7 linked regions of the Homo sapiens genome follow. The main gene of each other region encodes a partner of the protein of the gene in region 6 in a complex. Each region holds a gene or a part of one and is shown on either strand. Other genes may lie near its edges.

Region 1 (4,268 bases), on a different chromosome or scaffold from region 6:
CTAACTGAAATTATTAGACTAAATTCTTAGTAAACAATGTTTTCTGAACCTTGTTCAGAAATATAATCACTGCAAATTATTTTCCAAGTGTTGTTCTAAAAAACAATATAACTGGACACTAGTAAGAAAGTAAGGTAAATTATTAATCCACTCGCATTCAATTCTACAAGGAATGAAACCATTTTTAAAAGTGGCTTAGAACAAACAATTTACTGAGCACTTACTATGCACCCACCAGGTATATTCCTTTTATAATGTAATCTTCAAAATGAGCTGTCAAACTATTGGCCCATTTTGTGAATGAGGAAAATGAAAATTAAGTTATATAATCATGAGTGGCAGAGCTGGGAAATGAACTCAAGTCTGTGACTCTGAAGACATGAAAAAGTTACACATTTCAGATGAATGCATAAACTATCTTTATGGGTATGACATGAAAAGTAACTGTAGAATGTTACCTTAATTACATTTCCTAATGCATGATGTGGACAGACATTAGAAAAGTTTGGACTCAGTTGGAAAAACAAATCCAGCAGTTAAAAAAGTCCTTTACTTGCAATCCCTACCCCTAGCTAACCCAAGAGCATTTAAAAAATAACTTAAAAAGTAGCCATCAAAGATACCAATCAATTTCTTACTGGTGAAATATATAAGAACTTCCAGGAGTCACAAGAGTTCCAAACAATTAATTTATAAAAATAACAAAACATTTGTCTATGAAAAAAAGATCAGGATTCACTCTCATCGACGTCCTCATCTGGATGGTGCTCAGCATCCTCCTTTTCCTGCTGCTGTTTCTTCCACAGTTTGGCCATGGCCAGGAGTTTGAGGTTAGGTTGGTTGGCAGCATCTTCTGGAAAGATGTAATCAAAGTATTCTTCCCAGCCTGCATCAGACTACAGAAATAAAAAATGAAAAGATAAGCAAACGTGGGTGATATACTCACATATCAGAGTGAAGAATTTTTACTGGAAATCCGGATGATTACCTCCATTTTACAAAATAACATCAAAGTCTACTACAGAAAGAACAAGGGCTGGGTCTGAAAGACTGGGAGTGAGTAAGCAGCAACTGTAGCTCAGTGAGAACTAAACTGGTAGAAAAACATTCTAAAAATCTAAGCACAGCTCCTCTATAGCCAACCAAGATGTTCAGTGTCTCCAACTACATTGTGCAGTCTTACACTTAAGAAAACGTTTAACGATCTTTACATAATATTCACCCAGTAGCAAAAGCCATACATCTGTGCATTATTATTCCAACTCCCTACCTTCCCATCCTCACCTCCTATCAGTCACTGATTTCACTTCCCAAATATTGTTCTAACAGGCCCTGTGGCCCTGTTCTAGTTCCAGCTTCCATGTCTTGCTCAGCTTATAAAAACTGCTTCCTGATGGGTCTTCTTTCTCCAATCTAAGCCCCTTGAGTCTGCCAGGATGAGAGGCTAGCAATCTGGTCACGTCATTTTATGCAAAACAGCCTTCACTGACTCCCACCAAACTCCTTCTTACCGCCTACAAGCCTTCTCTGGATAGGCTCCTATCTGAAAGTTCAGTTCCATCTTCCTCCACACTTACTTCCTATTAAATGCTCTAAAAATATCACACTTCATGAAGTTCCCAGACTCAACCATCACCAAAACACCTTTGCCAACCCCTTCCCGTTCTCCACCTCTGACTGGACCATATGTTCTACCCCGTGTTTCCATAACAGCCAGATTGCAACCATCTCCTACTCCAGGTGGTCTGCTTCCATTCTAAGATTGTACATATGCCACTTAAAAGTCCACATTTCGACGTCAGAAGTGTTTCTACTCATGTGACGTGAGATGAACAGTCCCAGGGCAGAGTTCTTACCCCATCATCAGTCTGGACCTTTCTTCTCTTCTTGACTTTCTCTGGCATGAGTTTGTCTACTCTCTCCTTATCTGAAGCTGTTCCAAATTCTTCTTCAAAACTTCGCCAAGATTCCAGCAGCATAAGTCTCTCTTCCTTTTCTTCACAGTTTCGCATGGTTTTGTTAGCTTCTTCATAAATTTGTCTGCATTTAGTCAAACTTCCTTCTTTTCCTGAAGACAACTCAAACTGAGCAAAGCTGATCCATACCTTTAAAAAAAGTTATTATTGAACCAAATTAACCATATCACTCAGAAGATAATAATGTAGTAATAATAAAGCGAATTCCCAGTTAATGACATCGGAAAGTAATGTGTGCATCACTAATGTTTCACAGATGAAAACAATGAATATATGCTTCAATATAAACACTGAAAATATTTGATTCTACATTCTACAATTAAATGTCTGACATAGTCTTAAACTCTTGAAAAGAGTTTAACTTGGCTGGGTGCAGTGGCTCACGCCTGTAATCCCAGCACTTCGGGAGGCTGAGGTGGGCAGATCACGAGGTCAAGAGATCGAGACCATCCTGGCCAACAGGTGAAACCCTGTCTCTATTAAAAATAGAAAAATTAGCCTGGGCATTATGGTGCGCGTCTCTAGTCCCAGCTACTCTGGAGGCTGAGGCAGGAGAATTGCTTGAACCTGGGAGGCGGAGGTTGCAGTGAGCCGAGATAACGCCACTGCACTCCAGCCTAGAGACACAGCAAGACTCCGTCTCAAAAAAAAAAAAAATAGTTTAACTTTTTTTCAATCTTGTGATACCCAAGCTACTCACATGCAGCATAAACAATGACCTGGTATAAACTTAACATTCCAAACATTCCAAAGTCCTCTGAGACTCACGTTTCTCTTGAAAAGCAAGGAAGTCATTAAAAAAAAAAAAAAAACAAAAACCCAAACACTTAAAATACAGAAATATATCATTTTCTTCTGGACTGCTGATTCAAGCAAAATGAAAGATCATCTACAAAGCAAGGATACCTTGACATGCTGCGTCCGTTGAAGCAACCGCCGGTAAAGGTTTCGTGTTCTTTCTGTTTCTTCCTGCTCAATTTCAAAATCAATATATGATTTCCAAAGCACCTAAGGAAGAAAAGTAAATGGGTCAGTCTTGACATTTACAAAGCAGCATGCCCCCATCCAAAGCACAGCTGAAGTATCACTCTAACCTACATCTAGGAACATAGGATTTTTACTGAACAACTAAAGAACACATGTGGATAAGATAAATAACATTGGTATCTATAAGCTGGCCAAAACTTGGCTAGAATTCCAGATTACAGAAAAAGGGCCTTGGATTCAGTCTTAGAGATTCTCTTTGGAAGTTTTTCAAATGCTTGACTTATCAAGAGCTGAGAAACTTGCCAAGCATCTCCCAGGTACTCCATATTCTAGCCACACGCAATTGAGCGTCCAGAGAGAAAACAGGCCCAGGTTAGCCAGTATGCATGTTCTTACCTCTACTGTACATTCCTTGTTATTATGAGAGTTCAGTGCAACAAGCATTCACTGAACAGGTGCGCACTGGCTCGGTGCAGCCTGGCAGGGAATAAGGATGAATAAACCGTGGCATGGACACCTGAAAGCTGGCAGTCTGGTGGAGGAGCCGAGGACAACTGATGAACTCAGTGATACCCAAAGCCCTGCCTTAATTAATGCAATCAGGGGGCCAAACCATTAAATGCAGGGTCATGTTAGTGCATGAGATTAACAAAACGGCTGGGTGAGTTCTACGACTCATGTGAGATTCAAATCTTTCCTAGCTGTGGTTTGGTGCTACCTTGTGGGTCAAGCTTAACTACTGAAGGCAGGCGAGGACTTTCAGGACAGTGACAACAGAAGTTGCAAGGACATCCTGGTTTAGAGAATACAGGGATGTGCAGTTCCTACCTCCATCCCCCTCGTTCTCCGGGTGGGCCAGCCTGCTGGCTTCTTCCTTGCCTGGCCTCTTCCCCAGCCCCTTTAGGCTTTCCTGCTGCAGAAGGGGCGTCACCCACCCCCATGATATCCCAGTTCATCCTGGGCATCATCCTGGATGTCTACTGCTCTGGTATCTAATGAGAGGGCTACTTCCCCTGTCCCCCACAGCCACCTTTCCACGTACAAGCCTAATCTGAGTAGAAGAGACTAAGTTAGTTAGATCATCGTTATACTCTAAAATACACCCACATTTAGATGGTCATCTAAAGTAAGACTAAACACGTATCTCAAACAAAATTATATTTGACTTGAGATGCTCACCTCTGGCATGTCTAAACGTGGCTGACTGATGGCTAATTCATAGATTGCCCGTGCTCTGTCAATATCACCAAGGATTGTCTCTAATTCAGCGAATTTAATCCATGAGGTACAATTTTCAGGTCCAAA
Region 2 (4,268 bases), on a different chromosome or scaffold from region 6:
TGTAATCCCAGCACTTTGGGAGGCCGAGGCAGGCAGATCACCTGAGGTTAGGAGTTCAAGAACAGCCTGGTCAACATGGTAAAACCCTGTCTCTACTAAAAATACAAAAAAATTAGCTGGGTGGGGTGGCGCACGCCTATAGTCCCAGCTACTTGGGAGGCTGCGGCACAAGAATTGCTGGAACCTGGGTGGCAGAGGTTGCAGTAAGCCGAGATCACGCCACTGCACTCCAGCCTAGGCAACAGGGCAAGACTCCGTCATAAAATAAAATAAAATAACATAAAAATAAAATATTGTTATAACTGCATTCCACATGTTCAAAAAGTTAAGAGAGAAAGAATAGATTTAAAAGACCCGAAATCAAACTTCTAGAAAGGAGAATTATATTGTATGGGATTACTGTTAGATCAGAAATTACAGAAGAAAATAATAGTAAACTTGAACATATAGCAATAGAAATTTTCTAAAGTGAAATACAAAGAGAGAAGAATTTCTTTAAAAATGAAGAGCATCAGTGAGCTCTTCATTTATTTTTTCATTTATTATTTCATTAATAGAGGAATAATTTGAGTTCCCAAAGGAAAGAGAAGGGAACAGAGAAAATATCTGCAGAAATCATGACAAAATTTTCCCCAAATTAATAAAAACTAAAAACCCAGATCTAAGATGCTTAAAAAACCCCAAGCAAAGAAACATTCAGAAACTACACCAAGGCACATTGTAGTCAAATTGTTAGAACTAGTGATAAAATCTTAAAAACAGCCAAATAAAAATGACACATTATGTACACAGGAACAAAGGTAAGAATGACAGCAGTTTTCTCACTAGAAACAATGCAAGAAAGAAGACACTGGAGCAACATCTTAAAAGTACTGAAAGAAGGCTGATGCGGTCACTCACACATGTAATCCCAACAAGCTGGGAGGCCAAGGCAGGCGGATCACTTGAAGCCAGGAGCTCGAGACCAGCCTGGCCAACATGGCAAAACCCCATCCCTACTAAAAATATAAAAATTAGCTGGGTGTGATGGTATGCACATGTAATCTCAGCTACTCGGGAGGCTGAAACAGGAGAATCGCTTGAACCCAGGAGGTGGAGGTTATAGTGAGCCAAGATCACACCACTACACTCCAGCCTGGGCGACATAGCAAGATTCCATCTCAAAGAAGAAAAAAAAAAGTGTTGAAAGAAAAAAGATTGTCAACCTAGAATCCTAAACCTGGCAAAGATCTTTCAAAAATGAAGGCCAAATAAAGAATTTTTAAGACTACTCAAGCAGAACAAATTCAAAACCAGCAGACCCACAATACAAGAAATGTTTTTTTAATATTTTGTAGAAATGGGGTCTCACTATGTTGCCCAGGCTGGTCTCAAATTCCTGGAATCTAGCAATCCTACCACCTCAGCCTTCTCCCAAAGTACTGAGAGTACTGAGATTACAGGCTTAAGCCACCACGCCCCCTAACTTAAGAAATGTTAAAGGAAGCCCTTCAGGCAGAGGAAAAATGATATCAGATAGAAACCTGGATATACACAAAGAAATGAAAGAAACAAAAATGGTAACTACATGGCTTCATGCATGATTCTTATTTAAACCTCCCTAAAAGATAACTGACCATTTAAACAAAAATAATAACTATATAGTATAGGATTTATAACATATGTAAAAGTGAATATATGACAATATAGTGCAAAAATTGGGAGGAGAGAAATGAAGTATACTATAATGGCTCTTAATACTATCTGGAAGCAGTGTAACATCAAGAGAAGGTAGATCCTGATAAAGACATGATCTATAAACCCCAGAGCAACAACTAAAATAACAAAGCAAAAACTTAACAGCTAATTAACCAACACTGGAGATAAAATGAAATCATAAAAATTGTTCAAGTAATCCAAAAGAAGGTAGAAAAACAGGAAAAAGGGAACAAAGAGCAGAATGGATAAAGAGAGGGTCATTTCATGATAAAGGGGTCAATTCATGAAGACCTAACAACACTACACATTCAACTACCTAAAAATGGAGCTTCAAAATACTAGCCCATCCCTGTCTCAGTGCCTTTGCACTTGCTTGCATTTACTGTTACTTCTGACCCAGATGATCCTGTGGCTGGCGCTTTTTCATTCGGGTCTTAGTTCAAGCACCACCTCCCCAGTGAGGCCTTCCCAAAGGCCTCCCTGCCACCCCATCCCATTACCCAGTTTCCTCTGCTTCAACATCCTTATCTACATCTGAAAGTATCTTGTTCTCTGATTACCAGTTTACCTCAACTGCTGACTCCTCACTGCCTACAGTAGTGCCTGGCAGAGAGTTGGTTCAATAATTGTTTAAAAAAGGATGAGGGAGAAAGGAACAACAGTCAGCCAGCCAGCCAAAGGGAAGTGAAGGTCCTCCCCTCTCAGCCCTGTCTGGTACCCTTACCCGTCCATCGCCTCCTCAATCTTCTTCTTCCTCAGCTCAATGAGTTCAGGGGTCTCCATTCCAGCAGGCACTGATGAAAAGCCTCCAGGAGTGATAAGGCCACTGTAAAGAGAGGAACAAGCTCTGGAGTAAAGAGAAGGACCCCAAAGATAGCCCACTTCCAAGAGGCATTCTCTGCTTCCCCCACCTGTCTGCAGGGGTAATAAAGCCTGTCTCATCTGGTTTGTCTTCATCACTTTCTTCCTCTTCCTCTTCTTCTGAGGATTCTTCATCAGATGGTTCCAGTTCCCCCCAAGGGGTCCGATCAATCTCTTCTTCCTCAGTCTTGGTCTGAAAGAGATCACTTTATCATTCAACAAATGTTTTCTAAGTACCTATTATGTGCCAGGCTGTTTTAAGCTGAAGGGGTGTAAGAGTCAAAACACAATAATCCCTACCTACCTAGAGCTCAAATTCTAGTGAGGAGCTTACATTAACATCTCAGGAAAATGTATGCCCTTTTCCAGGCTCTGCTGTGTCAGAACACACAACTCCCTGATAATGAAGCTATAAACCAACAATCTAACCTTCATGACATTAAGTAAAACCAAGATCGCTAGTACATGGCCCATACCTGAAATTCAGCAGCATTGGTTCCAAACACGTCCCCATAGAGCGGTTTCCCAGTCTCATCCACTGGAGGTTTGCCCCAGCCACCAGCATGGTACCCAAAGGAACAGCTCTGCAAGACAGTGAGCACAATCAGTTCACTCCTTAGCTGCAAAAGAAATTCTGAAGCCCTAGAGAAAAGGCACACTCAAAAGTACAGAGCTGATACTTGGGAACTCCGGAAATTATGACTGCAGAATTAAATCAAATGTTATGAAGCATTAGAAACCAAAATTAATAAACAACTAAAATCTGGAGGCAACAGGATAAGGAGACAGGAGGCAGAAAGTATGCTAATAACTTCTGTCATGGCAGAGTCTTTACTGTCTGAAACCAAAATACGTACATTGAAAACATGACTTCAATTTCTTATTGAGTTTTCCTAACTTTGGAAAGCTAGCTTGTTCAGAATCTATTTATCTTAAGGGGCAGAAATTTCTATCTAAAATTTAACAATACTACTGTTTTACTTTAATGACTCATCAATTTTTTTAATGCTTATTTTAAAATAAGAAATTTGAAGACATTCTTGAGATAAAATTATTTCTGAGAGACTGAAGTGAAGCTAAAAAAAAATTATTTCTTTTTTCTTTTTTTTTTTTTTTAAAGTAGAGGTGCGGTTTCACTATGTTGCCCAGGCTAGTCTTAAACCCCTGGCCCCAAGGGATCCTCCCACCTCAGCCTCCCAAAGTGCTGGGATTACAGGTGTTGAGACACCACATCTGGCTGAGATAAAATTATTTCTCTCTGGTCATTCTTAATATTCAGAGACATATCTGGAAACACATTCACCAAACAGTGAATTTGGCTATTTCTGAGTGGTAAAATTGTGACTTGCTTTCATCTTTGTACTTGTCAATTCTGACTGAATATTTTATGATGAGCATGTCAGTTTCTTTAAAAAACAAAAACCATTATTTGTTTTTCTACACATACACATGGTATATGACAAATATTATGTCAATAAAATATTTTTTAAGTAAATAAAGAGACACATGGTGGAGTTAGAGAAGGAAAACAAACAAATTACCTTCCAGTTCAAAAGCAGAAATGGCCAAGAATGAACGAAAGGACAATGCTCACCTCAGGGATGGGCGAGTTCAGCCCAGGGATTTTCAGGTTGGGATACGATGGGGGTGGTCCATATCGCTGCATGGCAATCAGCCATGGGGGAGGGACCTTGTGGGCATTCTGCAGG
Region 3 (4,268 bases), on a different chromosome or scaffold from region 6:
TTATAGGCATGAGCCACTGTGCCCAAAATAATAACCTATATGGAAATTTTGTAAATTAGCTTGCATGTTATTAAGCTATCCTTATCCACCTCAACTCATCTCTTTAATTTATTTGTCTCCCTGTAGTTTATTCCCTCTACCCCGCATTTTAACTTTCTGGAAACGTGTGGTAAAAAGCAATGTGTAAAAGGCAGGCTTCCAATCTGAAAAGAGATGAGCGAAAACAGTATATAGCATAATGGACTAGATCAGAGTAACTGCTTAGGATGGAACAGCCAACCGTTCTTCAGCTGCTTCCAGAGTTCATCTGTAGCCCAGTTATCTAGAGCCTTGCTATTCAAAGATGGTCTGTGCACCAGCAGCACTGGCAGCACCTAGGGACTTGGGAAAAATGCAGAATCTCAGGCCCCACCCAAACCAACTTAATTTGAATCTTTTTGTTTTGTTTTGCTGCTTGACACCACAAAGGTTTCTTTCTGTCTCTCCTCATGATGAATTATGTTGGTGGGGATGAGGAGTGCTGGCTTCCGCATGGTCACAGGACTATCAGGAACCCATTCAGAAACACACGACCCATTTAGCAGCTCCTCTCCTTAACTGTCAGGTAACGTTTGTCATGCAACAGATCTCTAGAACTCTTTTCATCTTCCAAAACTGAAATTCTATGCCCATTAAACCGTAACTCCTCATTTTCCCTCCCCACAGCCCCTGGCCACCACCACCACCAGAATCTGCATTTTAACAAGATCCTGAGGTGGAGATCATAGCAACTTATAGTCTGAGAAGCCTGAACCAGACAGCAATTTGCTCCTTCCAATTCTATGCTTAGGTCTCTAATATATCCTTTACCTGAGATTTCAGCAAAAACTGTATCTAATTACCTCACATGGAAGTAGGGCCTACCCTCCTTATCTGCAGCTTGCTGTTAGTACCATCTACCACTTGGAGCCATCCTAGTTAATTTGGATCAGTGTGAGGAGAGAGGCCATTTCTCTTCCTGTCTCCCATCTCTGAAGAGGAGGAGGGAGTAAAAGCTGAAAAACAACAGGAATGGAGCCAGTGGCAAAACCAACCGACGCCACTGACCAGGCCTGAGGTTAAAGATTAACCCCCCAACTCTAACCATGTGTTGCCTATAGATCACTTGCTCCGTCTATCACAACCCTTTCACGCAGACCCTCTTACAGTTGTAAGCCCTTAAAAGGACCAGGAACTTTTTCTTCAGGGAGCACGGTTCTTGAGACACAAGTCTGCCGACGCTCCTGGCCGAATAAAGCCTCTTCTTTCTATAACCTGGTGTCTGCGGGGTTTTGTCTGCAGCTCGTCCTGCTACAAGTACATCATAGCTGAAATTGAACCTTATTAACTGGTATGTTCAAATTCAATCCACTAGGCAAGAGGCCATTAAAGATAGGGAGAAATGAAAACAACACACCACGGTATGGACCTTCTCAAGTTATTTTTATCAGTAAAGAAAATGGCCAGGCACAGTGGGTCACACCCATAATCCTAGTACTTTGGGAGGCCGAGGTGGGTGAATCACTTGAGCCCAGGAGTTCAATACCTGCCTGGGCAACACAGTGAGACCCTGTCTCTACTAAAAATAAAAAAAGAAAAAGAAAATAGAGACAGTCTAGATGTACTGAAATTTCCAATTATGTAATCCACTGACAGAAAAAAGTGTGGATATGCCAGAAGTAGTAACAGAAGTCTAGAATTTATAAATACTGATGTATTTTTGGATTGCCACAGGTCAAGCAAATTCTTAAAAGTTATTTAAAGCATATAAGGTTCTAATTTCAGCTTTGTTCTAATAGCTAATCTACTTTTTACTTCATAGAATTGTCTTGATTTTGAAACCCTGGCATTCGGAAACATCCTGACTTCTAGTGTTTCAATGGTTCATTCAATACTTGTATTATAATTGGAAACAGACGCTGGCTGCCTATCTTTATTTCTATTGTAAAGTTTCCATATTTGCTTCAATTAATTTACATATAATTACTGTACATGAGAGATAATGTTATGACAAGAATAGTTTCTGCAACATTAAGTATGGGTCAAAAAAAGAAGAAATGGGCCAGGCGCGGTGGCTCATCCCTTTGGGAGGCTGAGGCAGGTGTATCACAAGGTCAGGAGTTCGAGACCAGCCTGACCAATATGGTGAAAACCCATCTCTACTAAAAAAAACACAAAACTTAGCCAGGCATGGTGGTGCACGCCTGTAATCCCAGATACTCAGGAGGCTGAGGCAGGAGAATCGCTTGAACCCGGGAGGTGGAGGTTGCAGTGAGCCGAGATCACGCCACTGCATTCCAGCCTGGGCAACAGAGCAAGACTCCATCTCCCAAAAAACAAAGAAATGACTTTAGACAAATGGCTTGAATGAAATTACAAAGAGGAGTGCATTAAAAAATACCAGCAGTAAAATCTCTTGAAGAATTAAAATGACAGGCTAAAAATAAATAATAAATGTTCTTTTTAGAAAATACTAAGTTGCTGCTGGCACTCTATATTCTTCTTCTTTGTTTTAATGGATGACTTGTATGTACATCTTCTGGCTTGTCCTCTGGAGGCTTTGGCACAGATGAAATTACCTAATTAAAAAAAAAAAAGAACCATTAAAACTTAGTTTCTATAGCACAGGAGTAAATAAGCTATTAGAAGAGGTAAGACTACATCCAATAGTTCAATCCTTGATGTCACTTTCGAGGCAGAGTTCGCCTAAGTTCAAGGTACAGCCTATGACCTAGGCACAGAGTGGAGTCTTCCATTTGAATACTGATGACAGTAAAATTTCTAAAGCTATTTAAAAAGAAAAAAAATTTGGAGGAAGAAAAGTGAACATATGCTCTACTTTAACATTCCTTTATAGATCTAAAGACACTTGTTATATTACGGATTCAGATAGATATCCTGGTTTTGCATTCTTGAAACACTGATAACGTTTGATAGATTTGGGGGGATGAAAACCTTTGGAGAAATGAGCAGGAAGCAGTATAATCCTCAATTTCCTGGAGAAAAAGGAAAAGCAAACACACCATCAGAAAAAGAGTGTACAAAGAGTATACAATAAGTCAAAGCAAAGTAAGAGTCTTCATTTGAAATGGAAAATTATTAGAAACTATAGTAAACTGTATTTAATATCTTTTTTTTGTTGTTCTATTTCTGGACCTAGAATTTGGACTTCACACGTTTATCTTGAAAATGTAATCAGCTCTGGTTGAGACAGGTATGTATCTATGTCTATGCCTCAGTTCAGCTGTAACTGAAGGAAGGAAGTAAGGGTGGCAGCACAAACTGAAAACCTTTTTTTTTGAGACAGGGTCTCACACTGTCACCCAGGCTGGAGTGCAGTGGCATGATCTTGGCTCACTGCAACCTCCGCCTCCCAGACTCAAGTACCCTTCCACCTAAGCTTCCCAAGTAGCTACAAGAGTTCACCACCACGCCTGGCTAATTTTTGTATATTTATGGTAAAGATGGGGTTTCATCACATTGGTCAGGCTGGTCTCAGACTCCTGGGCTCAAGCAATCTGCTCACCTCAGCCTCCCAAAGTGCTGAAGTTATTGGTGTGAGGCACTGGGCCCAGCCTAAACTGAAAAGCTAAAGAAGGCTTCAAAACTGTGCCCACGGATTTTAATTATTATTAAATAATACCTTTAATCAGATATTTTTAGGTAAAAAATGTACATATATGAAATTAAACTACCTTAGCCTCCCTTAATCACATTGTAAAATATGAGTAAAACTATGTGAAAAGCAGTTTCTGCATCTTGGAGTAAGTATAAGAGAATGTCATAACCCTCAGTTTATGATTTGTAACAGTAGTCCCTACCCCACAAAAAGGTGTCTTTCAAAAGCTAACTCAGATGTTAACTTCATTTGTGCTTAGGAAATGGAAAATGATTATGTAAATGACATTAAAAAAAAAAACAGACTACCTAGGCAGCACAATCTGATCCCGATCATTTAAGAAGTCTACATTTGAAATGCATACCTGGAGGCCTAATTTTTAGAAATCTCACCACCTTCTATTGCTCTTTATCACAAAAGCAAATTAAGCATTTTGAATTTGATATAAACTGTAATAACTCTAAATTTGAGAGAAATAATTTACAATACTTTTGCTTCTCAACTTTGGCTCATATTAGAACTACCTGGGGAGCTTTTAACAAAAATGGCAGGCCTGGGCTCCACTCTCACAGATTGATTTAATTGGCTGAAACCACTGCTTTAATATTTTGTATCTACAGTGATATAAAAT
Region 4 (4,268 bases), on a different chromosome or scaffold from region 6:
TCTCATATGGTACAGAACTGGTACCAGCCTGGGGGATGGGAGGAGTCCCATGGGTCAGTCATCATCTGTGTCACTAGGGCCCATGTACTGGCAGATGGCATCGTAGTGAAGCTCCACCACCTGATTTTCTCTTGGCAGTTGCACCAAAGCCCGGCTCCGTGCTCTGTCCCGGCTCAGCAAATGTCCCACCTGGAACAGAGGTGAAGTGGAATCAGCAAGGCAAGCCTAGACCCTGGGACAGGCCCTGAACGACCCACAAACCTCTACTGCCAGGTCTGAGACTCACCCTTCCAGTCTGTGGGCCCAGCACCACCATCACACGGTCACCCTCTGCCTTGGGAACCAGGGTCTCCAGCATGTCTTCCCTCAGGCCTATGGATAAGGGAGAGGGGAGTGAGGCCCACAGCAAGGACCAGCCCAACCAGCGTCCTGTCAGAAGGGCCTTTCCTGGCCAGGCGTGGTGGCTCACACCTGTAGTCCCAGCACTTTGGGAGGCTAAGTTGGGAGGATCGCTTGAGCCCAGGAGTTCGAGACCAACCTGGGCAAGATGGTCAGACCTCATCTCTACAGATTTTTTTGTTTTGTTTTTTGAGACTGAGTTTGGCTCTTGTTGCCCAGGCTGGAGTGCAATGGTGTGGTCTTGGCTCACTGCAACCTCCGCCTCCTGGGTTCAAACGATTCTCCTGCCTCAGCCTCCTGAGTAGCTGGGATTACAGGCACCCACTACTGCGTTTGGCTAATTTTGTATTTTTAGTAGAGATGGGGTTTTGACATGTTGGTCAGGCTGGTCTCAAACTCCTGACCTCAGGTGATCCACCCTCCTCGGTCTCCCAAAGTGCTGGGATTACAGGCATGAGCCACCGCGCCCAGCCTACAAAAAATTTTAAAATTAGCCAGGCATGGTGGTCAGTGCCTGCAGTCCCAGCTACTCAGGAGGCTGAGGTGAGAGGATGGCTTGAAACCAGGAATTTGAGGTGGCAGTGATCCATGATGGTGCCACTGCACTCCAGCATAGGTGATAAAATGAGACCCAATCTCAAAAAAAAAAAAAGAAAAAAAAAAAAAAGAAGGGCCTTTCAGCTGGGTGTGGTGGCTCATGCCTGTAATCCCAGCACTTTGGGAGGCTGAGGCAGGAGGATCACGAGGTAAGGGGTTCAAGACCAGCTTGGCCAATATGGTGAAAACCTGTCTCTATTAAAAATACCAAAATTAGCTGGGTGTGGTAGCGGGCACCTGTAGTTCCAGCTACTCAGGAGGCTGAGGCAGAAGAATAGCTTGAACCCGGGAGGCGGAGGTTGCAGTGAGCCAAGATTGCGTCACTGCACTCCAGCCTGGGTGACAGAGTGACTCTGTTTCAAAAAAAAAAAAAAAAAAAAAAAAAAAAAAAAGAAGGGCCTTTCCTGTATTCCCTGGAGCCACTCTACACCCTGTTGACAGATGGGAGTCCCGCCACATCCATTTCACAGATGAGGTAGCCTAAGGAGTAGTTTACAAAAATCACTGTAATAAAGGGTGGTGGTGATAACAACAGGCACCTTTTATTGTGGGCATGTTTTAACCCCTGCCCTGCACTGAGAGCTCAATACACATTCCTTCACTAAGGCACCAATCACAAGAGGAAGAAATAGTAAATTCCATGCTAATTTGACAGACCGGAGGCCGAGCGCGGTGGCTCACGCTTGTAATCCCAGCACTTTGGGAGGCCGAGGTGGGAGGATCACTTAAGGTCAGGAGTTCCAAGACCAGCATGGTCAACATGGTGAAACCCTGTCTCTACTAAAAACACAAAAATTAGCCAGGTGTGGTGACGCTTGCCTGTAATCCCAGCTACTCGGGAGGCTGAGGCAGGAAAATCGCTTGAACCTGGGAAGTGGAGGTTGCAGTGAGCTGAGATCACGCCACTGCACTCCAGCCTGGGTGACAGAGTGAGACTCTGTCTCAAAAAAAAAAAAAAAGAAAAAAAAGAAAACTTGACAGACTGGGAGAGTGGGGCTCAAGATAACCAACCACCATCATGGAAGTGTCTAATGTTCTGTAAGAGGATGCTAGGCCTTGCAAAATACCTGAACTCTGCCAAACCTCCCAGCTTTGCCTGGGCCAGGCTCTGGGCCTAAAACACTCTTCTTGATCAACCTCCAGCTGCCATCGCTCAAACTCACCTTCCAGGACTCGGCCTTCATCTGTCCGACATACACAGGTATCTGGGCTTAGGACATCTTCAATTATCATCTGGGGATACAGGTCAGGGGGATGTGAGATTTTAGAGAGGTAGGGGGGCCCAGTCCCTAGGAGAGGGAGGGGGACTCAGGCTGCAGGGTTCCCACCTTGGTGTTGTAATATTGGCCTCCTTTGTACATGTTGTCCACAAACCGCACACGCAGGTCCCTGTGCAACCAGTGCTGACTTCTGGGGGCTGCTTTCTCACTCTTGGCTGCAGGCCCATCCTGTCTGTGGAGAAGGTGCCAGCACCAGGCTTAGCTCTTCATCAGATGCACTTTCCAGTTGCCCTCCCTTTGCCTATGCTATGAAACCCACCCACAATGCAGTTCCCCGTTCCTTCTATGAGCCCGCCTTGCCTTGGAAGCCTTCCCTGGCTGCTCGAGCCTACCCACAGCCCTGCCTTCTTGACCCCTCCCGCATGCTCAGAGTCCCACCGGTCTGGAAGGTGTTTCCGCTTCCTCTCTGAGTTGTCCTGCTGGATGTAGAGTTCTTGATTCCAGAGGGTCTTCCGTGATGAGGCAGTTCCGTTCTGTTGCCCTGGGGAAGGAAGTTTTGCTCATCTGGCCTGTTCAAGAGGTTATGAGGAGAACCAGGACAGAGCCTCAGTGTCTCACTGCCCTTTCCTTCCAAGGCCATGTCTCAGCCTAGAGCCACCTCCCACCTGCCAAAGTGCCCCTCTCACCCCTCATGCATTTGCTAGTAGAATGCCTCTCCCCCACCTCTCAACCATTTCAGCTTCCTTCAGGAACCCTCCCGCAGCCAACCTAGCCCACAACAACAATGCTCACCTAGTGTGGACTAGAGATTCCCAGAGAGCTCTGTCTGTACCCATTTGCCAAACTGCCCCGTCCTACCGAAACGCCTTCGCCTGTGCTGTTCTGTCTGCCTAGAATTCCTTCCTTCTTGGTCACACCCTAATCCTAGCAGTTCTCACTCCCTAGTAAAAGAGAGGTTCATCACCCCAAATGGACAAAGATCTCGAAGGTAGGAATTGGTTTCTGCACCTGTTTCTTCTCACTCAGACAGGCTACAGACCCAGGGGTATGACATCGACCTTTCTCCAATCAAATGGAGTAAGTCACTTATGTCCATTCTCACCTCCTGACCTCTGATTGGAAGTCATATCTGCCAGGCACACTGCTGCCCCTCCCTGCTGCAGATCTAAAACCACCCCATTAGCCAGGCCCTGCCACCCCTAGGAATGCGTTGCCAACTCCCCTAGCTCTACAAGAGGCTCACTCACTGAGATCCAAGGTGTTCTTGTCAAACTCCTGCTGGGAGACAGGCCGCAGGTAGTACTCACTAACAGTCACCACCCGGCTCCCCACAGCCAGACGAACCATGGCCCGAACATTGTCAGGATCAAGGCCTTCCACCTAAAGTGTTGAGGGGAAGAAGTCAGGTAGGGGTTGTGGACTCCACCCACATTCCTAGGACCAAGATGTCAACCCCTTACCTCTAAGAGGCCTGCTTCCTCTGTCTCCCCAACCAGACTCTGACCCCTGAGAAGTGGGACCAGGTCTGGTTCCTGTGTCTCCCTCAGCTGACTGTGGGGCTTCCTTGGATCCTTTAAGCATTTAATCTTCAGGGACTTGTGGCATATGGCATTCTCTTCCTTTTAGCTGGGAACTGAGGCTCACAAAGGCCAGCAAGTGGTCCTGGGTTACTGAGTGAGGCAGTGGGCCAAGCAGACCTAAAAGACTAGGAGTCCCAGCCTTTCTACCTCAAATCCAATTATTCCTCCATCTGACCCTCGGATCAACCTTCCCTGCTGCCTGTTTTGGGCTCCCGGGATATCTTGGTTCCTTACCTTCCCATAGAGGCCTCGGTGAGGGCCAGAAAGAACCACCACAGCTCCTCCAGGCACCAGCCCTTGAGGCTGATCTTCCTTATCTTTCTCTTGCTCCTCATCTGGTCTTGGCATGCGGGAGGGGCCAGTGGGGGTCAAGGCCTGGGCCTCGGTCAGGTTGGCACCCAGCCCTAACCCCTTGGGCCTCAGTGAGTTGACACGGGGCTTCACTACTCTGCAGGGAGGAATATGGGTTTGT
Region 5 (4,092 bases), on a different chromosome or scaffold from region 6:
TCCTTTATTTTAGCCACCAGGAGGTGGTACCCTTTCCCCAACTCCTCACCTGTTGGGATGGCCCGCCAACCCCACGGACTGGCCCAGCAAGTCCTGCAGGAGCCTGGGGCATGGGAACCCCAGCTGGGATTCCTCTGCCAGCAGCCCTGCCGATCCCTGGGCCCCCGGCAGCTCCAGCAAGTGGAACTCGAGCAATACCAGTCTGAAAAATAAACAAATATGCTCTGATGCCCAGTGATCTGAAGATCAGAAGTATACTTTGGAATATCATTGCCAAGAGAGCCCCTCGAAATAGCTTATAAATACTATCGAAATAGCTTATAAATACTACCTCTCCATGTGTGCCAACACCATTCTTCCTCCATCCAAGACTATGAGTTATCCCTGAAGCAGGGTAGAACTTAAGAGTAAGTCTAGAGAAACATGCCACAACTCAACCACCTATATGCACTCCTGTGAAAGTTAAACCAAGAGCAAAGGGCCAGGGTTCCACTCAGGGTTCAGCAGGCAAGGCATTAAAGGGACATGAGATCCATTCCCAGCTGATTCTAATCCGCTAGGTGACAATGGACAAATAATCCCACAATCCCGGGCTGAGTTGCCTTATCTGCAAATGACATGGTTATGGTACAACTGGTTGTGATCACAAAGGTTTATGATGGGTTATGTTAGACCAGCCAATTCTACTGGAAGTAGGTACTAAGAGATTTGAATATGTACATGGACTTTGAACCAAGATATGCTAACATCCCTTGCAGACATTTTTAACTGGAAAAGGCAAAAACGTAAAAATCTCCAAAAAAGAAAATGATTAGGATAAACTACTCTGTACTCATTTGAGAAAATCTCAGTCATTAACTTGACTTTAAAAGTGTTGAGCAACTAGAAAAATGTTAACATTAAGTGAAAACACAGAACAACATAATATATGCCCACTATGTGTTAAGTACAAAAAAATCCAGATAATATATGTGGATTTTTAAAAAGTTAAAAGGATTATTCTCTTTTGATTAAAATAACGTCTTGGCAGGGCGTGGTGGCTCACATCTGTAATCCCCGCTACTCGGGAGGCTGAGGCAGGAGAATCACTTGAACCCGGGAGGCAGAGGTTGCAATAAGCCAAGATCGTGCCACTGCACTCCAGCCTGGCGACAGAGCGAGACTCCATCTAAAAATCTAAAAAAAAAAAAAAAAAAAACCCTTCAAATGAAAAAGGGAAAGGGAAAACAAATTTGACTAGGTCTCTAAAGCCTGCTCTATTTCTATGTGTAGCTTGGTGTTTACAGAATCAAGACTGTCTGAGATCAAATGTCAGTTTCACCACTTAGTGGCTGTGGCACCTTGGGCAAGTTACTAAGCCCTGGTTTATTCTATTTATAAGATGAGAATTTATCTCTAAAGAGACCTAAAGGATCAAATAAAATACTGAAGTGGTTGGCGCAAGGTAGATTCTCAGTAACTATGAACTGTAACTGTACAAAACAAAATACACACATTTCCTATTGTTTCGGAGTTACAACTTTTTAAGGTCTACCTAGGCTTTGTCGTCACATTAAGAACTGACCCAGATGGCTTCAGGTGCTTCCTCCACTGACTCACTATGTACATCAACTGAGAAACAGGTAGAGCTTTAAAGTCTGAGATACCCAAATTCTAGTTCCCCTTTTCCACTTCTTTCTTGCAGGGTAACCTCTTTTTTTTTTTTTTGTCTTTTTTTTTTTCTTCCTTTTTCTGGAGAATGGGGTCTCGCTATATTGCCCAGGCAGGTCTCGAACTCCTGGGCTCAAGCTATCCTCCCGCCTCTTGCCTCCCTGAGAGCTGGGATTACAGATGTGAGCCACCGCGCCCGGCCTCTTGCAGGGTAACCTCTTTAAGATTTCATTTATTATCTGAAAAAGGGGGCAAAATCCAGAGGATGCCTGTGAGAACTGCAATGAAACAGAATCTAACACAGAGCCTGGCTCACAGTAGGGCCTCCCCTCCTCCACAAGGCTTCCTGCTCTGACTTACATCTTTGGGAGGAGGTCCCTCTACTGTCATTGAGACCAGATTCTCCCCTCGCAGCAGCACCAGACCGAGGACTCGCTTCTCTTCCCTTTCTGCTTGTTTGGAGTTCTTTGGCCTAAAGAGAGGTTTAGAAGGAACAAAAAAAGTGTTAGAGGTGGGTAAAGTTCACCTGCCTAGTGGCCTCCAAGATTTGCTTATACTGCATCTCCTAACAAACAGTACACAAACTTTCCCAAGATAGCCCTCCTGGATAGTCTCTACAGGCTGAACACATAACCTCTTAGGTGGCTATCTACCTGTTTCCTACCATGCCAAGAGGACACACTGACCAAGAGATAGGACAAGGTCAACAAAGCCCAGCCCGGGCCCAAATGCTATTCCACAGCAACCGTGAAGGCCCTTCCCTCAGCCAAGTCTTCTTTCTTAGGACCCTATTCCCTCCCTTCAGCTTAAGGTCTTGCCAACATCAGGAGGCTGCCTAAACAATTCCAATCAAATGACTCCCACCCACCTCACTTACGTGCAGTGTCCTTCTAATATCAATTCAACCTCACAGGCCTATAATTCTGCCCCTCATCTTACATCAGAAATAGGAGAAGCCATAGAAGGAAAAGGTTAAGAGAAATTTCACATACACAGAAATTGAAATTTCATATCTGTTCCTCAAAAGCATAAAAACAGAAACCCCCAAAAAGCAACAACCAGAAAAAGATGAACAAAATATAAATGTGAAGTAGGAAAAATAACTGCAACAGGATAGGAAAGTGGGGAAAAAAGCTAAAGCTAGATCCTAAAAATAAAGGGGAAAAAATAGCCTGATTTAAAAAAAGAACTCAAAAGATTTTGTTTTGATATTTTACAGTATATTAACTGGTTGTCTGTGGATGGACAGTTTTTCCCTTTTTTGGCTCACATTTTCTTATTTTTTAAAATAATAACCATGTATTGTCCTTTCATAATTAGAAAAAAACCCTTCGGGGTATTTTAGTTTCTATTCATAGACTTCTTTGTATTTTCAAAAATATTTTCCAATAAACATTTTTTATAATCAGGAGGGAACTTTGGAGTAGCTCCACGCTCATCTGTTGGCCCCTCTCTAATACGTACCTGGCACCAAGGCATCCCTACCACATTTTTAAACTATACTTCTTGACCTTGGGTCACAGAAGAAATCAGCCCCAAGGAGAATCAAAGGGAATTCAAAGTGAGTGACAGAATAATATGGACACTGCATATGACAAAAGAGCTGCTGGCCACGGAAGTCACATCATCTTTTTGTGCCTCAAGTAGCCTTGAATGTAAAACATGATGGGAAGCTAAATCATATCTTTTAATGGGCCAAAAGCTTAAGATCTGTGAGACTCAAGGCAAGGGAGTTAGCCAATAACTTACGGAATTGTAGCAAAGTAGACAATATCTCCAATTGTTTGTATAAATGCCAACAAAAATCACTGGCCCCAAACCCACATGGGGAGCTGAGCACTTACCCTGAAGAGGGTCAGAGGCTTCTTAAAGCAGTTTCAGACCAGGCTGCATTGGGAGAGCCCTTTAGGCTACAGCTTTACAAATAGGCAATGAGGCCAGAAACTCAAGCTCTCCCCCCTCACACACCTGTGGGGAGAACATGAGAGCCCTTTACCCCAGTACCCAGGGGCACGCAAAGTGAGAGAAACAAAAAGCCTAGCAGCCCTTCACAACTTGTACTTTGCTAGACTAGAGAGCAAGGTTTGCTGGACTCAAAAAGATTTCTTAGCGTTCAATGTCCCCATTTAAGTCTGCCCTCTAAAACTGGAGAATAAACAGAGAAGAACCAACTAGCTACATCACCACCTCTATTGCTTGGCCCACCCACTCAATCCATTCCCATCCTCCAGTCTCCGCCCCCCACAGTCCACTCCTCACTTGATCTTTCTGAACTCATCACAGTCACAGAGGATCAAATTCATGTGCTTGTCAAAAGCCTTGAAGGTGCCAATGAAGATCCGGCCGTCCTGCAGGATGCACCTCATCCTGTAATCAATATGCTGCAGCATCTTGCTGCTCTTGCCCACCGTCTGCAAGGAGAAATGGACAGGGATGAGACTC
Region 6 (3,797 bases):
ACCTCCAAGTCATAATTAAGTTTCCCACTCTACTTTCCAGTAGAACTTACACTTCTGTATTCTTGTGTGTGCGCATGCGCCCGCGTGTGTTTTCCCAGGCTTAAAGTGTCCTAGTTAGCTAATGGCAATTGGTACTAGAAATCAGATTTCCTGACAGCCAGCCTAGTACTTTAATCCCGTTTTACAGCTTCATTTTTAAAAGAATCCCAAATTGATATATTTCTATAGCATTAAAAGAAAAATCCAAAAATCAACAACAAAAAAACCCAAGAGGCACTTTTGTAGGACACTGACTCTTTTATTTTTTTGAGATAGAGTCTCAGTCACCCAGGCTAGAGTGCAGTGGCACAATCTTGGCTCACCAAGCAATTCTCGTGCCTCAGCCTCCCAAGTAGTGGGGATTACAGGCGTGCACCACCACACCTGGCTAGTTTTCGTATTTTTAGTAGAGATGGGGTTTCACCATGTTGGCCAGGCTGGTTGTGAACTCCTGACCTCAGGTGATCTGCCCGCTTCGGCCTCCAAATGTGTTGGGATTACAGGCAAAAGCCACCATGCCTGGCCTCCCTGGTTCTATTTTAGAAACAAAAGGTTGACATACCACAACACCAAGTTTTTAATCACCTAATTTCTTTCTTCTCCTAGTGTCTCAAATCTCAGCCCACTATAAGAAGTTAAAATCAGAACTGTTTCATCTTGTCTCAAGTTTCAACATACAACTTCCAATTTTTTTGTCATCATGCTGGCATTTACATCCAAATGTAAAGTATGTTAATTTTCGTTTCCCTGAGGATAGGTATTCACATCAACACACACAATATGCTGTTCCTAAACTTGTACCTTGGATTGGTTGAAGAGCCTTTGGTCATACTGAACTTCATTGGAAGTCCGAGGATTAGGAACACCGAGAGCAATAACTTCACTGATATCCCGATTTTCATTTCTCTGAAGTTTCGACCTATTTTGAAATACGACATCACTAACTGAAAACTCTTTATAGACAAGCTGAATATGTTCAATAGAAATACAACCAATCTCAGAAACAAAGGATGTGAATATGTCACATTCACATCTTGTGAACATATATTCCTTGATGATACATAATCAAGCTGGCAGCCCTTATAAAGCATTTCAGATTAGAGGGAGAGTTTTACAATTAGGACGTCCTGTTAGCTCAAAAGAACATCTAACAGATTCGTTGACATGGAATTCTTTAATATAAGCAATCACCTTACAACCATGCTGAGATATAAAATTGCTATGGTCTATATTTACTATCATTATATGATGGTTTGGGGGTTGGGGAAGTGGATACAATTTAGATGTAGCACACGAAACATTTTAAATAAGCTAGAAACAGCTCTTTTATCTAACCACATTTAGTAATTTTATCCCACTAGAATTTTGAGGAAAACATGTCAATGACTGAATTAGTATGATTTTTGACATTCAGATTAATTTGGTTTCCTGGCTGTTGCATTATATATGCAACCTACATCCCAATGAAACCATGGTAACTGTCATTACTTGTTTTACTAAAAACTCAGGTCACAAAATGATTTCTATAGGCTGTTTGATTTTCATCCAGTTACAATTTCACAGCTTTTCTATGTTGTCAATTCTGATAGCCACTTTACTCGTTTTGAGGGCCCAATTTATCCACAGAGCCATTGTAACTTTTACAACTTAGGAATTACTAACCAAGACTGTCATTAATTAAACACTTTCACACTTTGCTCCTCCTTCTACATGTACTTTACCCTCAACTCTCAAGAGTAAGAGTCTTTGCTTCTCCATGACATCATTTATCCAGGGAGATGAAATATGCCAATTAATACCAGCAGGAATCTTTTTCATGCTTATTTATTTTTATTTTTTTATTTTTTATTTTTTATGACACGGAGTCTCACTCTGTCGCCCAGGCTGGAATGCAGTGGCACGATCTTGGCTCCCTGAAACCTCCGCCTCCAGGGTTCAAGTGATTCTCCCACTTCGGCCTCTCGAGTAGCTGGGACTACCGGCATGTGCCACCACACCCAGCTAATTTTTGCATTTTTAGTAGAGATGGGGTTTCACCATGTTGGCCAGGCTGGTCTTGAACTCCTGACCTCAAGTGATTCGCGTGCTTTGGCCTGCCAAAGTGCTGGGATTACAGGTGTCAGCCACTGTGCCCGGCCTCTTTTTTGTGTTTAAAATATGACTTGAAAAATGTATTAGGCTCATGGGATGATCAGAGCACAGAAAACTGTTCATTTGGGAAGAAAATATTCTATATTTGCATTTAACCCTCACTCAGAATTCCACCTTAGTATTGCAGCGTTCCCTCTACTTTTCAGAACTTTTAGTCCTCAGCCTTTGGTGAGCCATAAACTTCCCCAATTCCTACTTTACTCTATGCCCTCATATATATATTTAGTTTGTTCTATACGTTTATACTTACTAAGAGTGCTTTGCAAATTTTCTCAAATTATTTTATGGATAGCTCTGTCTTTCTGAACTGTAAGTTAAACTACTCCTAAAAATGAGCTGATTTTCTACTTCTTTCAAAACTGCTCTTCTCCTCAATTGTACTAGATGCAGTACTATGCATATAAAATGATCTCAATAAAAGCATGAAAGCTTATTTCCTGTCTAAAGAGGCACATAATCCATTTATCTCACCATTTGAGGTAGAAAAAGAACGGACTATAACAGTCCAAATTTACTACTACATCCTTTTCAAAAATCTGATCTCGATTCCGTTTTCTATATTCCCATCATTCTCAATTCTGACTTAAGTGATGGAAGATTAATTCCAAAGACAGTCAACTAGAGCTAAGACAAAGTAGTTAAGTACAAGAAAATTAAGTGCTAATTTATTAAGTTATCAAACTAAAGAAGAAAGGGAGAGAAGCAAAACTGATCTTAGTGGACTAAAACTCTGCTCTAAAAGGTACAAAAAGGCCACTCTTCATGATTGGTACATATCTTTTTTTTTTTTTTTTTTTTTTGTGAGATGGAGTCTCGCTCTGTCGCCCAGGCTGGAATGCAGTGGCGTGATCTCGGCTCACTGCAAGCTCCACCTCCCGGGTTCACGCCATTCTCCTGCCTCAGCCTGCCAAGTAGCTGGGACTACAGGCGCCTGCCACGACCATGCCCGGCTAATTTTTTGTACTTTTAGTAGACACAGGGTTTCATCGTGTTAGCCAGGATGGTCTCGATCTCCTGACCTCGTGATCCGCCCGCATTGGCCTCCCAAAGTGCTGGGATTACAGGGGTGAACCACTGCGCCCGGCCACCATGATTGGTACACATCTTAAATAACACCTACCTCTTATCAGGAGCTGCCCTGGAAAGATTCCGGTCATGCTGTCTCTCTTTTCGCCTGTCATGCCGGATTTCATCCCTCTCACGTGCCTCCCCATCCTCTGTGTGAACAGTTGAAAAGTACTTCACTGTAATATGTATTATATGTGTGCATACGTGTACACGTGTGTATATATATAATTTTTTAAAAAGAGACAGCATCTCACTCTGTCACCCAGGCTGGAGTGTAGTAGCATGAACATGGTTCACTGCAGCCACTACCTCCTGGATTCAAGTGATCCTCCTGCCTCATCCTCCCGAGTACCTGGGACCACAGATGTGTGCCACCATGCCTGGCTAATTTTTAAATTTTTTGTAAAGATGGGGTCCCACTTATGTTGTCGAGGCTGGTCTCAAACTCCAGGCTCTAGTGATCTTCCCACCTAGGCCTCCCAAAGTGCTGGAGTCACAGGTGTGAGCCACTGCACTCAGCCCCATTAGTATTTTGTTTG
Region 7 (4,268 bases), on a different chromosome or scaffold from region 6:
AAAGGTCAGCACAGCGAGGCCAAGAGAATACCAGCCTTCATGGAAACAAGTGCCCGTTAACCCTGAAATGAAAGCCCCAAGGAAGTGGCACGAATAGCTGCCAGCTGCCTTTGCCCAGCTGTTAAGCACAGCTGACTCGTTTGATTTTTTTTTTTTTTTCCAGACAGGGTCTCACTGCTGCCCAGGATAGAGTGCAGTGGCGCGATCCTAGCTCACTGCAGCTTTGACTTCCCAGGCTCAGATTATCCCCCCACCTCACCCTCCCAAGCAGCTGGGACTACAGGCGCACGCCACCATGCCCCGCTAATTTTTTTTATTTTTTGTAGAGATCGGGTTTTGCCATGTTGCCCAGGCTGCTCTCGAATTCCTGGGCTCAGGCAATCCACCTACCTCAGCCTCCCAAAGTGCTGGGATTACAGGTGTGAGCCACCACGCCTGGCCATCCCTGTGATTTTAACCATTCCAGGCCACAAAGCCACAGCCAGCCCTGCTCGTAACATGCAGGGGCCACACCTGTCACAGCAAAACCTGCTGGAGCCAGTCCACACAACCGAGACCACGTGTGACAGTGAGCTGGCAGAAGGCCACGGCGAAGCCACGACAGGCCAGGGTTCACCCCAGAATGCCACGGAGACACCCATCCACTCTGGCCTTGTAGTGGCCACATCCACAAATCCCGGGAGGACCAGAAAAAGGACAGAATCATCATAGTAGATGCTAACAAAGAAACCTCTAAAAAGTCAGCCACCCTCCTAAAAACAGCCCAACAACAAATGTTCTGAGAAGGCAAAACAGCGATTTCTGTGGAGCACAGCAAGATGCCCACATCCTCCTCCCCCATCAGGCCCACGGTGACGTGACGGTGACGTGACTGATGTGCACACCAGGGAAGCAGAGAGCAGACCAGCTTTTGGTGATAAGCGTGACTATCTAGAAAACCCAAAAAAATCTTAAAAACTTTTGAATTATAAGATAATTTGTTAAAGTGGCTAGATATAAAATGAACGGTAGTTTTTCTCTACATGAGCAATGATCCCCAAAAGTTGGGAAAAAAAAAGTCCATTTACAAAAGTATCATAAACTATAAAAAATCCTTAAGAGGTTGCTTTATCCCGGAAGTCACAGGACCCATGTGAAGAAAACGATTGAAAGACTGAAACATAACATCAGGCCACTGTCTGGGGATGGAAAGGGCACCTCTGTTCTTCCACAATACAGGCATCCGGCCCCTGTGTGCATGGCCCTGCTGGCCCCCCATCCCCTGCCTCCTGCCACCAGACTGCACACTGCTCCCCACATGCACCAGGGCCAGACCTCCTGTGTCTCTCCAGGCGCCTCTCCCTGTGCAGCCTGTGCCCTGCACAACCCCTCCCACACGCTGACCTCCCCCAGCACTGCCTGGCCACAGGCACCCACACGAATGCCTGGTCCCTGTCAAGAAGCCCTTCTGGACCTCCAGTAATTCCCGACTTCTGGTCTCTCGAGGACACACCCGGTGCGGGCAGCTCTCCCTGCTGACTCACTCTGGGGACCCCCTTTTGAACGCAGGTGCACATGCTTGGCCTAGGTGTGCCGTACACCGTCTGGGTATGATTCAGAACCAGCACACCCTTCAGAGAGGGCCAAGAGGAAGAACCCGCAGAGAGTGCCGGCTCACCTCCCAGGCCACCCCAGCAAGCCCAGCTGACTCACAATTGAGACCTGTTGCTGTTGGGCCCGGAGTTGGCCATGCTGAGGATGCCGCGGCCCGTGTGCGAGAGGTTGGGCCGGAACTCGTCTTTGAAGGGCTTCCCCCAGTATGACTCCCCACCTGGAAGAGAAAGGCCCATGGGAGCAGGAAAGCCTGGGCCCCAGCCGAGGCAGAACTAGAAACCTCAGAGTCCCGAGGGGCATCAGGGCCTTGCTGAGCCCAGCCTGGGGCAGGGGCACTTGATAGGGAGGCTCCCAGCCCCACGCCACCAACTCCTGGGTCCCTTGGAGCCCCCACGCCTCCAAACAGGCAGGCTGCTGCCCACTCACCCCAGCCCCGCCTGGGGCCTGCCCCGGGACAGGGATTAAAGAGTCAAGGCCACCATCATCATCACTCAAGCTATGGGAATACAGAGGTTGGGGGATCTGGACCCAAGCAGCTGCCAGGCTGAGGGGCTTGGAGAGGCTGCAGGAGGGAGGGCTGGCCTCAGTCTGAGGCAGACCCCAGGGGCCCAGGGAAGAGACCACACACTCTTGCCTCCTCTACCATGCAGGCCTCACAGCCACCTGGAAATGAGAAAACTGAGGGCCAGGCCTGAGGGGGCACAGCACTGATGGCTGCCAGTCGTTCCACCCTGGTCTAGCAGATTCCATGTCTGAGCTGTGCACAACCCCTGCCCAGCTACCCCCTCATGCCCCACGGAGCAGCCAAAGTGCCCAGAGAGGGGCCCAGCACCAGTACCTACCCGTGCCTGTGCCTGTGGGGTCGCCCCCTTGGATCTGTGAAAACAAAAGCCAGTGAGCAAGTCACACTCTGAGACCCGAGGCCCACCGCCTGCCTGACTGAAGGACACCCCTCCTGCCAGATGGCTCCACACAGGGGCTGGGCTCTTGGTGATAATGAGGGGCCCTCCCAGCCACCTCCCTTTGTGAACCCAGTTCTGGATGGGCTGGGGCCTCAAGGGTCAGTCTATGGGTTCCCCAACAGAGGATCACCAACTGGACTCATCCTGGCCACCGTGGGATGGGCCAGGGCCCTGGGATGGGGCAGGGACAAGCCCACCCAGCCCCCGATGTCCCACCAAGCTCATCTGTGCAGCCAGTGACTCTCGTCACTCACCACAAAGTTCCGGATGGATCTGTGGAAGATGGTGCCATCGTAATAATGCTTCTTGCAAAGCCTGATGAAGTTTTCGCAGGTTTTTGGTGTCTGCAACATAGCCCCAATACTTGTATGAAGCAGAGAGCTGCCAAAGGCAGCTCACCACAGCCACAGGAGGCTTTTTTTTTTTTTTTTTTTTTGAGGTGGAGTCTTGCTGTTGCCCAGGCTGGAGTGCTGTGGCGCGATCTTGGCTCACTGCAACCTCCGCCTCCTAGGTTCAAGACATTCTCCTGCCTCAGCCTCCCGAGTAGCCAGGACTACAGGCATGCGCCACCATGCCTGGCTAATTTTTGTAGTTTTAGTAGAGACGGGTTTCCCCATGTTGGCCAGGCTGGTCTTTAACATGTAGCAGAGTCAGCTGCCCAGCCACACTGGGCACGGATGGACCCACAACATTAAGCAACAGGACCCGTGCAGCCGCACGGCCCAGAGTACAGCGCATGGGAGAAGTGTGGGCAGAGCAGCAGGTGCGGCTTGGCCCCTTCTCTGAGACACTGGCACCTGTGCGCAGGCCATGCTGCCAACGCGGCCCCCTAGGAAGGACACAGGGCACTGCTGCGGGTCCCGCCTAGTGACAGGCTGAATTTCCTACAACAAGCACATACCAGTGGCAGCCCTATATTTAAGACATGGCTGTCAGATGACCCAGAGATGACCTTGGGGCATGGGGAGTGGCTGGCCTCCACACCCACCAGGTCGCAGTGCAGCTCCAGGTTGAGGTCGCCCTTGTTGGTGTGCAGCCGCACGTAGCCCTTCTTCTTCACAAACTGGTAGCGCAGCACATCCTCGTCGATGGCAGCTACAAGCCAAGGTCCCAGCTCAGCCCCTGCCCTCACCCTGGGGCAGCCCCACCATGCCAGGCAGCACCGACCTCAGACACACAGGCGGGGACTAGGCTCCAGCTCTGGGGAGAGCAGGGGAGCTGGAGGCCGAGGGTCTGCTTAGGCCACGCACAGGCTCACCCCAGCCTCATGGGGCTGGCAGGGGTTCAGCAGCTAAGAGGGGGAGGACTAGGGGCTCAGGTGACAGTGGGAGCCCCTGACAGACCAATAAAGTGGGAGTCGGGGAGCACACCCACCCCCTGCCACTTTTGGGTCACATGGCAGGTGGCTACAGAGGCCAAGGTGGCTACCTGCTTCATGTGTGGTCTCCGGGACCATCGCGGTGGAGGTGAAGGAAGCGCTGACCTTCCCTGTGGAATAGTGGGCCTGCCAAGGAAACCAGGGTGGCACCTCAGCAGTGCCATGGGAGGCAGTTGGGTGGGGACGTGTCGCTTGCCTAGAAGCCAACCACACGCCACCCCTGCCCCCCAGGCCCTGCTTGGTGCCTCTCCTCCAGGAGGGCCTCCCCAACCAGCAGGAGGAAGAAGCCAAGGCTAGGCCAAGCCAGGGTCCCCTGGCCTCCACTGGATCCCGAC

Evidence for each region.
Region 1: SNW1 (region 6) and CRNKL1 share a complex: the UniProt entries of both Homo sapiens proteins name them as parts of the minor spliceosome.
Region 2: SNW1 (region 6) and SF3B2 share a complex: the UniProt entries of both Homo sapiens proteins name them as parts of the minor spliceosome.
Region 3: SNW1 (region 6) and RBM48 share a complex: the UniProt entries of both Homo sapiens proteins name them as parts of the minor spliceosome.
Region 4: SNW1 (region 6) and GPKOW share a complex: the UniProt entries of both Homo sapiens proteins name them as parts of the minor spliceosome.
Region 5: SNW1 (region 6) and SNRPB share a complex: the UniProt entries of both Homo sapiens proteins name them as parts of the minor spliceosome.
Region 7: SNW1 (region 6) and PPIL2 share a complex: the UniProt entries of both Homo sapiens proteins name them as parts of the minor spliceosome.

What each region holds. Positions count from the first base shown.
Region 1 is NC_000020.11:20,035,467-20,039,734, forward strand, and holds part of CRNKL1 (crooked neck-like protein 1), read right to left. Parts: coding exon 4,143-4,268; intron 2,985-4,142; coding exon 2,883-2,984; intron 2,106-2,882; coding exon 1,857-2,105; intron 897-1,856; coding exon 729-896; 3' UTR 1-728. UniProt on the Homo sapiens protein: Involved in pre-mRNA splicing process. As a component of the minor spliceosome, involved in the splicing of U12-type introns in pre-mRNAs.
Region 2 is NC_000011.10:66,061,884-66,066,151, reverse strand, and holds part of SF3B2 (splicing factor 3B subunit 2), read right to left. Parts: intron 4,262-4,268; coding exon 4,154-4,261; intron 3,144-4,153; coding exon 3,036-3,143; intron 2,753-3,035; coding exon 2,610-2,752; intron 2,525-2,609; coding exon 2,423-2,524; intron 1-2,422. UniProt on the Homo sapiens protein: Component of the 17S U2 SnRNP complex of the spliceosome, a large ribonucleoprotein complex that removes introns from transcribed pre-mRNAs.
Region 3 is NC_000007.14:92,535,180-92,539,447, reverse strand, and holds part of RBM48 (RNA-binding protein 48), read right to left. Parts: exon of another isoform or gene 3,021-4,268; intron 3,015-3,020; coding exon of another isoform or gene 2,904-3,014; exon of another isoform or gene 2,598-2,903; coding exon 2,511-2,597; 3' UTR 1-2,510. UniProt on the Homo sapiens protein: As a component of the minor spliceosome, involved in the splicing of U12-type introns in pre-mRNAs.
Region 4 is NC_000023.11:49,113,567-49,117,834, forward strand, and holds part of GPKOW (G-patch domain and KOW motifs-containing protein), read right to left. Parts: intron 4,245-4,268; coding exon 4,031-4,244; intron 3,597-4,030; coding exon 3,464-3,596; intron 2,758-3,463; coding exon 2,655-2,757; intron 2,449-2,654; coding exon 2,325-2,448; intron 2,230-2,324; coding exon 2,160-2,229; intron 373-2,159; coding exon 287-372; intron 190-286; coding exon 55-189; 3' UTR 1-54. UniProt on the Homo sapiens protein: RNA-binding protein involved in pre-mRNA splicing. As a component of the minor spliceosome, involved in the splicing of U12-type introns in pre-mRNAs.
Region 5 is NC_000020.11:2,463,698-2,467,789, forward strand, and holds part of SNRPB (small nuclear ribonucleoprotein-associated proteins B and B'), read right to left. Parts: intron 4,062-4,092; coding exon 3,910-4,061; intron 2,123-3,909; coding exon 2,011-2,122; intron 203-2,010; coding exon 50-202; intron 1-49. UniProt on the Homo sapiens protein: Plays a role in pre-mRNA splicing as a core component of the spliceosomal U1, U2, U4 and U5 small nuclear ribonucleoproteins (snRNPs), the building blocks of the spliceosome.
Region 6 is NC_000014.9:77,719,871-77,723,667, forward strand, and holds part of SNW1 (SNW domain-containing protein 1), read right to left. Parts: intron 3,408-3,797; coding exon 3,311-3,407; intron 959-3,310; coding exon 841-958; intron 1-840. UniProt on the Homo sapiens protein: Involved in pre-mRNA splicing as component of the spliceosome. As a component of the minor spliceosome, involved in the splicing of U12-type introns in pre-mRNAs.
Region 7 is NC_000022.11:21,686,274-21,690,541, reverse strand, and holds part of PPIL2 (RING-type E3 ubiquitin-protein ligase PPIL2), read right to left. Parts: intron 4,060-4,268; coding exon 3,984-4,059; intron 3,651-3,983; coding exon 3,544-3,650; intron 2,900-3,543; coding exon 2,810-2,899; intron 2,470-2,809; coding exon 2,436-2,469; intron 1,811-2,435; coding exon 1,693-1,810; intron 1-1,692. UniProt on the Homo sapiens protein: Has a ubiquitin-protein ligase activity acting as an E3 ubiquitin protein ligase or as an ubiquitin-ubiquitin ligase promoting elongation of ubiquitin chains on substrates.